Regions from separate parts of the Homo sapiens genome. Here region 1 is linked to region 2. A link means that fine-mapping ties the variant in region 2 to the plasma level of a protein whose gene starts in the linked region. Region 2 holds a variant in brackets. A gene starts in the other region. All regions are shown on their reverse strands.

Region 1 (5,366 bases), not on the chromosome of region 2:
CCTTTAAAAATTCCACAATAGTTAAACTAAAGAATCCCAGAAAACCTACGGCCCACCCCTTTGCACACTCCTCTTTCCTCAAACATTTGCAAAGGCTAAATGTCAGTGTAACATACCTGAGGAGACGCACAATATATTTCACCCAAGTCTGTTTTGGATTTGCGCACACAGACAACTTTTTCTTTGTGTGAAAGCTGAAAAATCAGAAAATTTGATTTGTGTTTAATGAGCTTTTCAATGGGTTTTTCATAGAACATACAATGGAAATTTTATATTCCAGTTGATTACACACTAAACATTTCAGTTGATGAGGTAAAATAAAATGCACAAAAAATGCTTCTGATGAAGATTAATGCAAAATCAAAGTGATTCTCTCTTTCTCTGCAATGTAACAAATAATAGTACAATGGCAGGAAGATAAAGTCCCAGAATTGTCATATAATTTTGCTATTGGTGGTTACATAGAATATGTATGTATCTGATCAATAACTTGTATAATTCCAAAATATAATATCCTATATAAATCAAGAAAATTATATGTGATAGTATAATTAGTCTGAGATTTTACTTTTGGTCTCAAACACTTTCTGGTAGAAGATGCTCATTTCGAAATGTGTATCTTCCCTATTTTCCTAATATATCACTTTAATAGCCTTAGAAAGTGATTTTTGCCCTATACTAGTTCCGTTTGACCAAAAAAAATTTTTAAAAAAGGTTTTGCCTTATTCCAGTCCTGTTTAAAGTGAACTTTAAAGTAGATATGTACTAAGACAAAGCTATCTTTGCCACATCATTTCTTTCTCTTTAAAATAAGATCTTATGTTCAAAACATCAGTAATTTCTGAATGAAACTCTAAAAAGGCAAACATTTTTAAAACTGAAGTTTCTAGGTATTCCTGATACAACTGAATTAAAATCAATTAATAACTTACATGATAGCATTGATGTCACAGCCTTCATTGGCCAGCTGCCGTGTGAAGCCCACAATAAATTTAGGATGAAGAATACGGTCTGTGTATCCAAGACAGCAGTCAAAGTTGCTTGCTGCTAAAAAAAAAAAAAAGTGAAAGGTATTGGATCCACATGAATAAACTTATCCTGTGATTGGTATTATAAAACTACCTTAAGTTGTGAAAAATCTAGTGAATCTCATGTATATGACGAATAAACCACTTAGAGGAGGAGTTTCAATGTCTTGGAAACCTTTGTAAGGTCGTTGAGAACCAATCTAACATAGTTTACAGTTCTTTGAAAAAACAGTTTGTGTGCCGAGAAGTTTTGGTTCAATAATAGAATTGAGAAACACAGGACTTCTCATAAGTGGGATATCTTCAGTAAGAAATACAAATTGACAATATTTCATTTCAGTTCACTATAATCATTCAAGAATATGAGCAGCCCCTTCCCTACTGCTTGAAGGAACCCTTATGTAGATAAACTTCCAAAAGCAGAAAATGAATAAATTGGCAGATTTTAATCTATTATCTGGCTACTAAGTATTGAGAAATAGAGCTACAAAGGGAAATATGATTTATAGGAGTGAAAACACTTTGAAATTGTCCTATTAATTAATAGGAATGTTTAATTTTGTTCATAAAAGTTCAACATGTGGTTGGGCATGGTGGCTCATGCCTGTAATCCCAGCACTTTGGGAGGCCAAGGAGGAAGGATTGCTTGCCTCCAGGAGTTCGAGACCAGCCTGGGCAACACAGTGAAACCCTGTCTCTACAAAAAAAAAAAAAATGTAAAAAAATTAGCCAGGTGAGTGGCACACGGCCGTGGTCCCTGTTATTCAAGAGGCTGAGACTGGAGGTTCACTTGACTCCAGGAGGTTGAGGCTGTAGTGAGCTGTAATCATGCCACTGCACTCTGGCCTGGGTGATGAAGTTAGACCCTGCCTCAGAAAAAAAAAAAAATTCAATGTGCATTTTTAGGAATGCACCTGTTGCTAAAAGTGTTGTGTGACTATTGAGCAATAAAGCAATACTTGGACATTCCCGAGTCAGATTACAACATGCTGTAAGGTAAGGGATTAATGTTATTTTAAAGTTGGCAAGCAATGTCCCCCATGCCTTGTGGGGATGTTGATGTCAGGTATTATAATCTACTTCTAAAGGATGAGTTTTGAACTTTACCAAAACTATTAAGTTGGGAGGTACGAAAGTTGGGGACACAGGAGGATTCTCTACATTTCAAAATGGCCCCATCTACTGGTAACATTACACACTTTATATCACTCCCAGAAACATCACTTTGGCTTTATCCTGAAGTTTAGGGATCTCTAAGAGCCCACCACTCCCCAAATCTGCTGAGATTGACAGCAGAGAGGAAAGCCTGATCCGCAGCAGTAACTCTTCTCTCCTCCACTCCACCATGGGCAGACAACTTCCATCACTACCTCTTGTATACTTCCTAACAGTTTTCCATCCCTTAGGGACCCCCAGTTGAGCTCAAGGCTAAAAGGAAAATGAAAATAGTCTTTCTTCTGTGCTAGCGGAAAGAGCGACACTTACCTTCTGATTCGCCGCAGAGGTGGAGTAGCAGCACTGACATCAAAGCAGCCAGGAGCAAACTCTTGGTACAGCACATGGTTTTTAGCTCAAAGAACAGATCTGCTCAGTGTTGAGTACCCAGTTCTTTGGGAGTGCTGTTATATTCTGACAGCAGCCTGGGATGGCCCTATTTATAGCAAATATTGGGAATGTACACAGAAGGCGTGTTGCCACATGGGGTTTTCCCCATTGATCAACTGGCCCCATCATGTCATCATAAAAAAAACCCGCAAGGAAAACTTCCTGCTTTTTCCTCATATTGGGAAGGTGCGAAGGTCAGGGTGGGGGACAGGAAGTTGAGAAGGGGAGAATCCTGTTAAATTCTTTGTATTTGCAAAGAGCAAAAGCAGCTCAGCCCTGTGACCCAGAAAAGACTTTCATCCAGTTTTAACTTAATCATTTTTGTGTCTGAAAATAGAGGATTAACAGCGATACAAAGGTCAGCCCCACACAGGAACATTCCAGAACTCCTATTGTTACACCCTATTTGCTTTCCAGAACCAGTCAAGGAGGAGGGGGAGGAGGAGCAGGTGGGATGCCAGGCATACTCTGCTACACATTTACCATCACATGGTTGAGGTTCAGCTGTCATGAAGAAGACCCTGAGTTGCTAGACTAACATTCAGAGCAGGTACTATAACAGTGCTACAGTACTGTCCGCAGTTAGAGTGGAAAATATCAGCCTTTAAGTAAGGCTCAAACCTCAGCTTCACCTTGATTTAATGTCAACTCTTCTAAGAATCTTATACATTCACATGGCTTTAATCAATATTGCAGTTCAGAAAATAATCCTTACCTACCTTTAACTCTCCATGATGATGTACTAATATAACTCAATATAGAGCCTCAGAATTGTTGAGGAAAGAAAACCTATCAGCAGTAGCTAGTCAGCACAGCAAATGTCAAATAACAGTACTAATGATGATAATGTAATATGAATCCCTAACCTAAGGCAGTATAAGAACTCTCCACTAGACCCAAATAGGTTGAAAGTAAAAGGATCAAAAGAAAGGTATACCAAACAGTAAACAAAAGAGAACTGGAGTTGGTGATGCCTATATCAGACAAAATAGATTTTTTTTTAATGTTACCGGAAATAAAAAGGGACTTTCATGGTAACACAAAATTAACCCATTGGGAAGATGTAAAACCTATAACCATATATATACCTAACAGTAGCACCCCAAACTACAGAAAGCAAAAACTGACAGAATTGAAGGGAAGAATAGGAAATTTTATTTTATTTTATTATTATAATTTCTTTTGAGACAGAATTTTGCTCTTGTTGCCCAGGCTGGAGTGCAGTGGCACCATCTCGGCTCACTACAACCTCCGCCTCCTGGGTTCAAGCGATTCGCCTGCCTCAGCCTCCTGAGTAGCTGGGACTACAGGCACGTGCCACCACGCCCAGCGAATTTTTGTATTTTTAGTAGAGACGTGGTTTCACCATGTTGCCCAGGCTGAACTCCTGACCTCATTACAGGCATGAGCCACCGTGCCCAGCAGAATAGGAAATTTAACAATAAAAGTTGACAGCTTTGGTACCACATTTTCACTAATTAATAAAATTTAGGCAGAAGATCCACAAGAAAATAGAAGACTTGAACAACACTATAAGCCAAATAGACTTAGCAGGCATCGAAGGACTACTCTATCCAACATCAACAGAATAGTTGCACATGGAATGTTCTCTAGGATAAAGCATATGGTAGGTTATGGAACAAGTCTCAGTAAATGTAAACCGACTGAAATCACATAAAGTATACATTCAAACCACAATGGAATTAAATCAGAAATCAGTAACAGACAGAAAGGAAACCACATATTCCTAAATAACCAATGTGTCTGGCCAGGAGTGGTGGCTCATGCCTGTAATCCTAGCATTTTGGGAGGCCGAGGTGGGTGGACTGCCTGAGGTCAGGAGTTCGAGACCAGACTGGCCAACATAGTGAAACCCTGTCTCTACTAAAAATACAAATATTAGCCGGGTGTGGTAGTCCATGCCTGTAATCCCAGCTACTTGGGAGGCTGAGGCAGGAGAATCGCATGAGCCCAGGAAGCAGAAGTTACGGCGAGCCGAGATCACGCTACTGCCCTCTAACCTGGCCAACAGAGACTCCATCTCAAAGGAAAAAACAACAACAACAACAACAATGTGTCAAAAGAAAAGTCACTAGAGAAAGTAGAAAACAACTTTGAAATGTAAAAAAAAGTCCACAACATATCAAAACTTATAGGATGTAGCAAAAGCAGTCCTCAGAAGGAAACTTATAGCTGTAAACACTCACATTAAAAAAAAAAAAAAAGAAACATCTCAAAACAATAACCCAAACTTCTACCTTAAGAAACTAGAGAAAAGCAGAGCAAGCTAAACCCAAAGCATGCAGAAGGAGGGAAATGAAGATTAGAGCAGGAATAAATAAAACAGAGAATGCAAAACAATAGAGGAAATCAACGAATGCGAAAGTTAGTTCTTTGAGAAGATCAACAAAACTAACAAGCCTTGACTAGACCAAACCAAACAAAGGAAAGGGAGGTAAAAAAAAAAAAAAAAAAAAAAAAACTGTATGCAAATAAAATTACTATGCCGACAGCACAGTAAAAAGATCATACACCATAACCAAGTGGGATTTATTCCAGGAAATGTAATACAACAAATCAATCAAATAAAAAATAAAAATGATTTGAAAAGCAACTGACAAAATCCAACACGTTGTCATGACAAAAACACTCAACTAACTAGGAATAGTTGAGAACTTTCTCAACCTGATAAAAGTCATCTATGACCACCTCACAGCTGATACGAATAGAGAT
Region 2 (5,338 bases):
TCTACCAGGAGCTACACACACCCACTCAAGGCCAGACCATGGTCCGCCAGTTGATGCACAAACTGTTGGTGTTTTCGGCTCGAGAGGTGGATCACCGCGGCGGTTGCCTGATGCTCCAGGATACAGGCATCTCCTTGCTCATCCCACCAGGTAACAGCTCCTGGCTCTCATCTCCGCATACAGTTGGTCAGACTGTACATTAGGTCACCACATCTGAGGGAGCAATGTTCATAGACACCTTTTACTTCTGATAATTGTTTATATTTTGAGTATAGCTTTATTGACTTCAGGGATGGACATATTACATATCTTTTGGGACAACTTCCTGGCAGGTGGAAGTAAAGTGCCTTGTTCTAATGAATCAGTATGCTGTGACAATTCTCTAGTAAAGGGAGGGAAGAGCACCATTTGCAAATTCACACAAGGCACACTATGGGCTAGCAGCAGCCTGGGTGGAAAGGGAAGTGTCTTGCTTAGGGTTACACTACAAGTCAGCTCCACAGTCGTCTTACTCTTGTTCATACCACTTCCCTGTGTGCCCTGCTGGGGGTCTCTCCTGGGCTCCTGCCCCACCTCCTTTCTCTCTGGCCTGGCCTCTTTCAGGGGCAGGGGTGTGCCTGCCTACCAGGCCCATCTCAGCTCTCCCTCTCCCTGCCAGGTGCTGTGGCTGTGGGCCGCCAGGAGCGGGTGTCTTTGATCCTGGTGTGGGACCTGTCGGACGCCCCATCGCTGTCCCAAGCCCAGGGGCTGGTAAGCCCTGTGGTGGCATGTGGCCCCCATGGGGCCTCCTTCCTGAAGCCTTGCACTCTCACGTTCAAACACTGTGCCGAGCAGCCCAGCCATGCTCGCACCTACAGCAGCAACACTACCCTGCTGGATGCCAAGGTATGGAGGCCCCTGGGGCGGCCGGGGGCCCACGCCTCCCGGGATGAGTGTCGCATCCACCTCTCCCACTTCAGGTAGGCACATGCCATTGGCCTGTCTTCCCACACCCATCTCTCTGAGGACTGTCTTTCCTGCCCACTTTCTCTGTCTGCCTTATCTTCATCTCTCTGTATAGAAGATGGTCTGCAAATCCTTTATCCCCTGGTGTCTCTTTCTGGCCCCTCTGTCCTAATGTTTGTAGCAGTTTTTCTCACATCAATCATGTCCATGACTGCAAATCCCATTGCTGTCTCTCTGTCTGTCTGGAAGTGTCTGACTCAGCACCATCTCTCCATCTAAGAGGGACCTGTCTTTCCCATCTCTCTCTGTCTTTCAAATTATCTCTCTCTACACTGTGCCCCTTTCAGGACTGTCCCCAGGCTTAGCACCAGTTCTCTAAGACTCCATTCCATCTCTGTCCTTCTTCTCTTTGTCTTTCTAGAGTCCTAGGTCCTCTGCCTCCCAGCCTCCTTGCCACCCATTGACAGGAATAGGGCCATGTGCGGGTGCCCTCCCAAGCATGGTCACCCTGAGCCCACTTTCCCTCTCTCCCCTGCCAGCTCTCCTCCCCATTCAGTCACCAGTCACTGTGACATGCTCACTTTTCATCCCCAACCTACCAGTTCCTCCCTAAGTGCTCCCCTCGAGTGTTCTCTGAACCTCCTTGAAGGCCCCACAGAGGCCCCTCAGGTGGCAGGAGGCTGGTGGCAGTGTGTTGGTGTCTTAGCCTTCCCTGCACATTAGTGCCTGCCACTGGCTCCCTCTGCAGCCTCTACACCTGTGTGCTGGAGGCACCTGTGGGGCGCGAAGCCCGCAAATGGCTGCAGCTGGCCGTATTCTGCTCACCGCTGGTGCCAGGACAGTCCCATCTGCAACTGCGTATCTACTTCCTCAACAACACGCCCTGCGCCCTGCAGTGGGCACTGACCAACGAGCAGCCCCATGGTGGGCGCCTGCGTGGGCCCTGCCAGCTCTTCGACTTCAATGGGGCTAGGGGCGACCAGTGCCTGAAGCTCACGTACATCTCAGAGGGTGAGGGAGGCAGTGGCCTGTGGGATAGGATGATCGGGAGCCCCACAGGAATGAAGGGTTCTGGGCCTCCCCTGGACATCTGGAGATCTGGGGATCCCAAGTCTCTCTCTCTTTTTTTTTCCCGAGATGGAGTTTCGCTCTGTTGCCCAGGCCGGAGTGCAGTGGCTTGATCTTGGCTCACAGCAACCTCCGCCTCCTGGGTTCAAGTTATTCTCCTGCCTCAGTCTCCTGAGTAGCTGCAATTACAGGTGCCCACCACCATGCCTGGCTAATTTTTTTGTATTTTTGGTAGAGACGGGGTTTCATCATGTTGTCCAGGCTGGTCTCGAACCCCTGACCTCAAGTAATCTACCCGTCTCGGCCTCTGAAAGTGTTGGGATTATAGGTGTGAGCCACCACACCAGGCCCCAAGTCTGTTTGTGACCTCTGGGCCAGCAGTAGCCTCATGGAGCCCCCAGGGCTTTGACCACTCTGCTGTCTACTGAGCCCTTGCCACTCACTCCTTGGACAGGGTGATGCCAGGTGGCAGGTGGGAAGGAGAGGGGTTATACCCCACAGAAGCAGGAAAGGATGGAAGGCTTTTATAGTGCAAGGGCCCTCTTGGGGTCCCAGCCCAGGCTCTGGGGATTCCCATTCCCTTGAGACCCTCCTGCCTTTGTTCTGTCCTCATGCCTCCCCACAGCCCCCTTCAATACTTGTTTAAGGCCCCACTCTCTGAGGCCCTCTGCTGTCTGCCTACTCACCAGGTTGGGAGAATGTGGATGACAGCAGTTGCCAGCTGGTTCCCCATCTCCACATCTGGCATGGAAAGTGCCCCTTCCGCTCCTTCTGCTTCCGGAGAAAAGCAGGTAGTCCGGGAGCCCTGTGTGTACCTCCTCCCCTCTCTTTTCCCATCCTGTCTCCTCTCCTTCCCTCCCAGTAACCCTGGAGCTCTGCAGACCCCCATGCAGCCATGCACACAGACCTTCCCTGAAAGGCCAGGAGCCACACAGATCTTTGCAGAGAGAAAAATGGAGTGTTGGACCCCAGCTTCCTCAGATTTCCCAAGTCTTACTATAGAGTCCCTTACCTTCTCCTGCTCTTACCCCAGGCCGTTTCCTCACTCACTGGCCACGCTGTCACCTTCTCTTTATAGCCGATGAGAATGAGGACTGTTCAGCACTAACCAATGAGATCATTGTCACCATGCACACCTTCCAGGATGTGAGTTGGAGCTGAGGGGCAGAGGAAGGGCAGGGCCTGGGGGAAATCCTAGGCAAAGTGGGCACAGGGTCTGGTGCCCAGTAACTATGGTCTTAATCACATAGGTAAAGATGGCACTTTCCATAGAGCCCCCATACCAGCTCTTTGAGGGGCTGAGATCATCTGGGCTCCAAGTTACCCTCATCCCTGACTCTCCTTGTCTATCGGTGGATGAATCCAGCAGGAAGCTAAAAGAACCAAACCCTAGTTTAACCCCTTCTCCCAACTCAGAGAACTGGGGCATCAAGTTGATATGGTTTCTTTCTAGGCTGATTGTCTACATTTGAGAGATGATGTTTGGTATCTTCAGTGTGGGATTTGAGAGATGATGTTTTGTATTTTCAGTGTGGGAAGTGACCAGGAAGAGGGTCTTGAGTAGGCAGGCTGGGAGTTAGGTATCTCTCCTCTCCTGCTGCACCAAGGGAAGATGCGAAGAAATCGGAGTTGAGAGTCTTTGGGGAACCATAGTGGCACCTTAGTGGAGGGCAGGCAGATACCCTGTTGTCACTTGGAGAAGAGGAAGGGAAGGTTGGAATGGAGGAAGGTACACATATGGCTGAGATCAGTGTCTCTATGGTTGGATGACCTCCCACTGCTCCACGGCCCCACCCAGGACTTCCCCTGGTGGCTCAGGCTGCACTCTGGTCTTCATGTCCCAGTTCCCAAAGAGCTCAGGGGCAAACATAAGGCTGAAGGTGCGGTTCTGAAGTCACAGGGAGACAGTGGGTAGAGGGTGCTGGGTGGAGCAGGGTTGTATCTCCTGGTAAGGTGGCTCTGAGTGACAGACTGAAGGAGAGACATGAGGAATGGAGGTAGGACTCCAGCTTCTTACTCAGGGGGATGGCTTGTGACCCCTAAGTGTGTTCCCTGCCCTGTGTTGACTCAGGGCTTGGAGACCAAGTATATGGAAATCCTCAGATTCCAGGCATCAGAGGAGGAATCCTGGGCAGCGCCACCACCTGTTTCCCAGCCGCCCCCATGCAATAGGTGAGACGGGGGTTGCTTGGGCTGCTGCCTGGGGGATGTTGGGTTCCTACCCTGGCACCCACAGGGTGACTACAGCATTTAGGGTGCATATGGGAGAACCAGAGTGGGTCTGTTTGTCCCTTTCTTCCAAGAACACCCTTTTCCCTGCCTAAGGCTGCCCCCAGAGCTCTTTGAGCAGCTGCGGATGTTATTGGAGCCAAACAGCATCACCGGCAATGACTGGCGC[A/G]GACTGGCCTCCCACCTGGGGCTTTGCGGCATGAAGATCCGGTAGGAAGAGGGGTGAGGTCTGTGGATGGTAGAGGAGGGTGGGCTGGAATGGGGTTCCTCAGGACACTCTGGAGACTGGATCACAGGCAAGGGAGTGACTTAAAAGTCAGAGAATGGCTACTGTCCACCCTATTTCCCATAAAAGGGCAGCTCTATTAATCACTGTATCATCAGTACCTAGAATGATGCCTGGTGCATAGTAGGTGCTCAATTAACATTTAACAGTGAATCCATTAACATGGAAGTTATTTGGTACATGTTGAGTGCTTGCCATGCTATGCCCTGAGGAGGAGCAAGACAGATTATAGGATAATGTGTGTAAAGCATGTAGCTGGGTGCCTGACACTTGTTAATTCAATAAATGTTATCAATAATGGTGACAGTGCAGTCATGATCCCTGTCAAGGAACTCAGAAAGCAGGAGAATACTGAGCTAAGCTCCAGAAACTACACTATGAGTGCAGCGGTCAGGGAAGACTTTATCCTGGTGATGGGGCTAGAGCTGGACCCTGAAAACAGGGTGGATTTTTATTTATTATTATTATCATTATTTGAGACGGAGTCTTGCTCTGTCGCCCAGGCTGGAGTGCAATGGCGCAATCTTGGCTCACTGCAACCTCCATCTCCCGGGTTCAAGTAATTCTCCTGCCTCAGCCTCCCGAGTAGCTGGGATTACAGGCACACGCCACCATGTCCAGCTAATTTTTTATTTTTAGTACAGACGGGGTTTCACCAGGTTGGCCAGGCTGGTCTGCAAACTACAGGGTGGATTTTTAAATCATTCATTTAAACATTTATCAAGTACCTATTATGCCCTGGAAACTGTGCTAAGCACTATGATACAAGATGAATGAGGCATGGTCCCGGCGCCTAGGAGCGCACACACT

Direction of the effects. Alleles are on the strand shown, and positions count from the first base shown. The strength of an association depends on the size of the effect and on how common the allele is.
As copies of G replace A in region 2, the plasma level of the protein whose gene starts at base 2,659 in region 1 goes down (moderate association).

The links. PIP is the chance, under the fine-mapping model, that this variant and not a neighbour inherited with it causes the effect. Protein levels are from antibody-based Olink assays in UK Biobank. Linkage for the fine-mapping came from a reference panel and not from the study's own genotypes, which makes the PIPs less certain.
Region 1: it holds the start of CCL20, and the variant in region 2 is fine-mapped to the plasma level of the CCL20 protein (UK Biobank, PIP above 0.99).

The regions. Positions count from the first base shown.
Region 1 is chr2:227,811,135-227,816,500 of GRCh38, reverse strand. It overlaps CCL20 (C-C motif chemokine ligand 20), which reads right to left and starts at 2,659. Exons shown (of 4, transcript NM_004591.3): 1 at 2,514-2,659; 2 at 933-1,047; 3 at 117-194. The coding sequence starts at 2,589.
Region 2 is chr6:41,029,502-41,034,839 of GRCh38, reverse strand. It overlaps UNC5CL (unc-5 family C-terminal like), which reads left to right. Exons shown (of 9, transcript NM_173561.3): 2 at 1-150; 3 at 659-959; 4 at 1,694-1,956; 5 at 2,703-2,804; 6 at 3,092-3,159; 7 at 4,085-4,185; 8 at 4,339-4,452. Among named protein-coding and RNA genes, the nearest start is that of UNC5CL, 7.0 kb to the left of the region's middle. The variant A/G (reference allele first, on the strand shown) is at 4,412.